Linked DNA regions of Homo sapiens: region 2 is linked to region 1. Evidence: fine-mapped expression QTL. Tissue or cell type: lung. Region 1 holds a variant in brackets; the other region holds the start of a gene. All regions are shown on one strand. Distances are between the middles of the regions.

What was found. PIP is the estimated chance that this variant, and not a neighbour inherited with it, causes the effect.
Region 2: MYO7B-AS1 starts here. The variant in region 1 is fine-mapped to the expression of MYO7B-AS1 in lung (TOPMed, PIP above 0.99).

Annotation. Positions count from the first base shown.
Region 1 is chr2:127,590,773-127,593,526 of GRCh38, reverse strand. It overlaps MYO7B (myosin VIIB), which reads right to left. Exons shown (of 48, transcript NM_001393586.1): 17 at 581-733. Among named protein-coding and RNA genes, the nearest start is that of MYO7B-AS1, 39 kb to the left of the region's middle. The variant T/A (reference allele first, on the strand shown) is at 1,104.
Region 2 is chr2:127,629,664-127,632,417 of GRCh38, reverse strand. It overlaps MYO7B-AS1 (MYO7B antisense RNA 1), which reads left to right and starts at 1,634. Exons shown (of 3, transcript XR_923314.3): 1 at 1,634-2,043. MYO7B (myosin VIIB) reads right to left here. Exons shown (of 48, transcript NM_001393586.1): 35 at 2,592-2,754; 36 at 1,510-1,640; 37 at 1,055-1,212; 38 at 665-818; 39 at 17-172.

The DNA of each region.
Region 1 (2,754 bases):
GTATCGGTGGGAGGTGGGGCAGAGACCCCTCGGCGGCTCTCTGGGGGTGGTGTCTCCCTCCTTCTCCCACAGGCTCCCCCATCAGGGGCTGCCGCCCACCCCCGCCCAGGCACAGGCACAACGGGAACCTCGAATAGGGGTTGGGGTGAGGAGGGAACTCGGGGCCCGGGGCCTCCATGTGCTGTGGGACTCGGCCCAGGCCAGGCCCAGCCTCAGGATGGCTGAGGGTTCCAGACAGGACAGGAAGAACCTCGGGCCCCAGTAGCTTTCTAGCCACACCTCGGCTCCCTGACGCGGTAGGAGAGAACGTGTCTGCTGTACAACTACAGACATGTTCCAGAAGGAACCGCTGCGGCCGCCAGCTCTCCCAGACCCCAGGGAAAGCCCCCTCACTTCCGCGGCGCTGGGAGAGGGAGAGGGTAGGGTGGGAGGAGGAGAGAGGGAGGAAGGACAGGGCTCATCGCAAGGCTGGGGCCGGGGAGGGCAGCGGGAGACCCCCTCGGTACTGGGGGCTGGAGGTGCCAAGGCCGAGGGGAAGGCCGCGGATGGCCAGAGGTGACCGTCCCCGAGGGGCGCTGACCTGCATCCGCATGGCGTTGGGCAGCAACACGCCGAACCTCTGCGAGAACTCCTCGAACGTGTAGCGGATGGGGAAGCCCGACTTGCGGATGTGCACGGTCTCCATCATGCCCGAGTATCGCAGCTGCCGCAGGCACAGCTCCCGGTCGAACAGCTGTGGGCGGACACCGGGCGCTGACCCAGCGCAAGCCCCACTTTCCAGCCACCCCCCTTCCCGGCACCCCACCACCGGGCACGGGCCCACAGCCAGAGGTCAGTGTGTCCAGCCCCCCGCCCCGCCCACCCCCACTGTCCTCCAGAGATGGAAGAACTAAACAAATGCGACTTCAGTAAGGCTACATTTTGAAGAGAGTAGTGCAAGTAGTTGAAAAACCCGTAATGTTGTCAAGGAGATAAAAGTCGATAGCATGGAAACTGTGGCACCCACAGAAACACAGCACTCCCATCACTGTCAACTACTCGAAGCGCTGTGAATGTAAACGTCCTCTGCACATGCCCAGTTTAAAATGCTTTTTTTAAAAAAA[T/A]TTTTTAAATTTTATTTATTTATTTTTTTGAGATGGAGTCTCGTTCTGTCGCTCAGGCTGGAGTGCAGTGGCACGATCTCTGCTCACTGCAACCTCTGCCTCCTGGGTGCAAGCGATTCTCCTGCCTCAGCCTCCCGAGTAGCTGGGATTACAGGCGTGTAGCACCACGCCCGGGTAAGTTTTGTATTTTTAGTTAAAGACGGAGTTTCACCATGTTGGCCAGGCTGGTCTCCAACTCCTGAGCTCAAATGATCCGCCCGCCTTGGCGTCCCAGAGTGCTGGGATTACAGGCCTGAGCCACCGCGCCTGGCCCAGTTTAAAATGTTTTTAAGCGCCCCTTGCCTACATAGGTCGGGGTGGAAAGCTGCCCCGCAGGCACTTGCAGTTTCATGGTGCCTCCCTCACAATAGTTAAATGAAAAAATAAATCTACTCAGAGGCAGAAAATATCCTAATCAACTTAGTCTCTCCCTCCCTGGAGATGGAGGTCAGAGTGAGACCTGGAGTGGCTGGGGCGGAGGAGTGGAGGGCCTTTGGCCCCAGGGAGCTGAGCCGTCTTTTGCTTTGAGGCGAGTGTGACTGGCAGAGAAATGGCATGATGTCCTTCCCTGGGGTGTCAGGCTTCAGCAGGGGTTCCAAGACTCTGCCATGGCTTGGATTCTAGAGAGCCCCTCTCCACCTACAAGCCAGGAGTCTCTGAGGGACCCTGGGGAACGCCCTCTGATGTGGCAAACCCACCAGCAGGCACTGTTACCCCACCTGCAGGGTCACAGCGCCAACTGCTGGTGGGGTCCAGGCCACACTGAGCTTAGCCTCGGGTAAGTGTTTAGCTGCGCTTCACTGACGATTTCCTATGGGCCTGGTGTTTCTCACTGAATCTTTACAACATTCCTACCTGGTGGGGGTGATTGGCTCCAACTTAAAGATGAGGTGCTGAGGCATAGGGTTTTGCTTCTAAGGGGCTGAGCCTGGGTTTGAACCCTGAGCAGCCACCAATGAGAGATATCCCAGCCAGAGGCACTCTTAACCCCCGAGCTTCAGCCTCAGGCCTGCCTGCCTGTCCTGCAACTCCCAGCTCCCAAGGTAGGCAGGGTCTGAACGAGCCAAGGGTCTCTGGGAGCCCAGCTACTTCTCCCAGCAGTTAAGGAACAAGATAGGTTATCTCACATCTGCCTATTTTGCCTTCAAGGAAGATGCAACCTAGATTTCATAAGGCAAGCCTCATTTTATTTTTTTAGAGACAGGTCTTGCTCTGTCACCCAGGCTGAAGTGCAGTGGTGTGATCATAGTTCACTGCAGCCTTGACCTCCTGGGCTCAAGTGATCCTCCTCCCTCAGCCTCCTGAGTAGCTGAGACTACAGGCACATACCACCATACCTAGCTAATTTTTATACTTTTAAATTTTTTTGCAGAGATAAGGTCTTACTATGTTGCCCAGGCTTGCCTCAAGCAATCCTCCCGCCTCAGCCTCCCAAAGTGCTGGGATTACAAGCGTGAGCTACTGCACCCAGATCAAACTCGATTTCACATAGTTTTATTCTTTCCAAAAAGCATTTAATTTCATGTAATATTTTTATTCCCTTATGGGGATAAAACCATTTTATATTGTTTCAGCTGATGTCTCCTAGTTTGGGGAATCCCTGCATATGCGG
Region 2 (2,754 bases), 39 kb before region 1:
GAGGCACTGGGCTCACCTCAGGACCTTCTGGATTCGGCGGCTGCAGTCGGGGGCCAGCAGCTTCCCCCTCCGAGTGTCTATAAACTTCTGGGCATGGGGCAGCAGCCCCTTGCTGGGCGGGAAGAGGCCCGTGCACAGCCACAGCAGCTGCCAGCCCCGCTCTTCGCTGTGCCTGAAGGGTAGCACTTGTCAGCCGGGAAAGGCCCCTCAGGGGGCCCTGGCCAGGCAGGCACCTTGGGGAGCAGGGACGGATGTGAGAGCTGCCTGGGGTCTAGAGGGCCCGAGGGGGAGGGCACCTGCCAGGCTGCACCATGCCAGCTGTGCCAGGCTGCCCGATGCCACGGGCTTTCACACCCTCAAGATGGGGGCGGGTGGGCATTGCACCCATTTTGTGGAAGACGACACTGAAGCTCAGAGAGGTCATGGCCTGCCAGGTCACACACAGAGGGTGGGAGTGGGCAGGGCCATCCTCTCCTGCTCTGACCACCCCTAGGACATCAGCAGAGCAGACCAAGGGCCCAACCCTTCCCACTGCTGAGGCAGGAGCCCAGGCAGGGGTTCTGCCGCCACCAGCTGCGGTGTCCTCTCTGAGCCTCGGTCTGGCCTCAGGGGCCGGGATGAGGACTGAGGGTGCCCGCGTGGGCTGGCCGCCGCCCCAGCAGACCTGTTGGAGTTGTGCGTCAGCTGCTTCAGGATCTGGCAGTAGACCTCGTCCTGGAGGGCCGGGTGCTGCAGGGCCAGTGTGAAGATCTGGTCGGTGAGCTCCAGGGTGGGCCAGGCCTGCCGAGAAGGGTAGTCGCCCATGTACCGGAGGATGGGTGTGGCTGTCAAGGAGCACAGTGCTGGGGCAGCCCCACGCTGACACAGACTGGGGATAGACGCTGACCCCGACCCCGGCCCTGCGGTGAGCCATGTGTGGGCTCTGTCCCGCCACTCCAGGTTTCTCAGATCTCCTGGGCTCTCCTGCCCTAGAGCACAGCTGTAGGGCCAGGATGTGCTGGGTGCCTCTGCCCTGGCATTGACGAGGTGCAGGCAGGCTGGTGGGGAAGGATATCGACAAAGATCTGGCAGGCGATGTCCCAGAGGTCGACGTTGGCGTGGACTCGCTTGAGCAGCGGCTGTCGCAGCGGCTCGCAGGAATAGGCCCACAGGTGGCCACGGGCACGGGCCAGGGGCAGCACGGCCATGCTCACCATGTCCTTCTCTGGAGCCCTGTGAGGTTAGAGGCTGGTGTGAGGCCTGCCCTGTGGCCTTCTCTGTCCCACGCTTCTCTGTCCTCTGACACCCCTGAGTGGCTGTGGGAGGGCCAGAGCACCCCACCCTGCCGCAAGCCCCTCCTGACTCCCCTGGCCTGGGAAGGCCAGGCAGGCTCCACATGGGTGGCGTGGCCTCTCTGCAGCTCTCAGTGGGTGCAATGAGGTGGAGCGGGGCTGGGAGCAGGGGGTGCAATGAGGTGAGGTGGGGCTGGGAGGTGGGGGTGCAATGAGGCGGAGCGGGGCTGGGGGGCACCTGAAGAACTCATAGGAGAACTCCTCCAGGGTGTGCAGCTTTTCCTTGGGTGGCTCCTCAGGACGTGGCTCTGTGAACTGCCCCTCCTGAGCCGCCAGCTTCCTCTTCTCTGGTGACATGGCAAGCAAGCTCTGAAGGGGGCACAGGCCTGTGGGTGCCCAGGAGCCACCGCCCATGAGGCCCTTCCTGCAGGCTCCTCCCGGCCTGGCAGCCTCAGTGACTTGGGAGGGGTCAGGCCCAGGGCTGAACAGGCCAGGGCTTACCCACACCCCTGTCACCTGCCGTGTGACCCAGGACCATGACTCTACCTCTTGGTGCCTGTCTCCTTTCCCTTGGGAGGGTGAGTGCCAATGGCTGTGGCACCCACATCACCCGTTCTGGGGGCCACGGCACTCTGGGTTTCTCAGACCCCCAGCTCCCCAGCTCCCCTTCTCCATGGGGCCACCTCTCACCCCAGCCCTGCCTGCCTAGTCTGCCACCAACTTCAGGCCTCAGCACAAATGTCCCTCCCTCGGGGATGCCTTCCCAGACAGGGTAAGTTCCCCACCCTATTATTTGTTCCTCTCCTTGGTGGCACTTTGCACAGTTGCCATCCATGTGTCATTATCTGCCCAAATGTCTGCCCTGAGGGTGGAGCTGCTATTATGCCCAGACTCGTACCACAGGCACAGGGCACATACTCAGCACTCAGTATGTACATGTTGCAATGCCTGCCATTCCTGCCTCCGGAGAGGCTGGTCTTGGGGGCTGGGGTGGGTGGTTCCCTTGTGCAGGGAGAGACTTGAGTCCCCCTGGGTCAGAGTGTAAATGAGGCAGAGAAAGATTGGGTTTGTCCCCCGGACACCCCCATGATGGAAGAGGGAGGGAACACCCATTTATTGAGGACCTACTAAGTACCAAGAGCTGGGCTGGCACTGCACACACACCTTGCCGCAGGAATGGTGGGGGCTGCCCGGGTGGCCCTCCTGGCCTCTGCTAGGTGGGCTGCAGGCCCTGAGCTAGGCCTCCCAACTAGGCATCCCAGGACTGCTCCACCCTGACCTCGGGTACCCAGGCTGAGGACAGGGGAGCGTGCCAGTTACCAGCAGCTGTGCCGAGGGCTTAGTGACCGTGGGGATGGTGTAGAGGCAGGCCATGGGCACCAGCCCCGTCTTGCCTGTCCTGTCGTTCTGGCCGAGGGTCCAGTTCTCAGAGGCCAGCAGCCCCTGCTTCTTTGTGAGGACCAACAGGTCCCCCTTCTTGAAG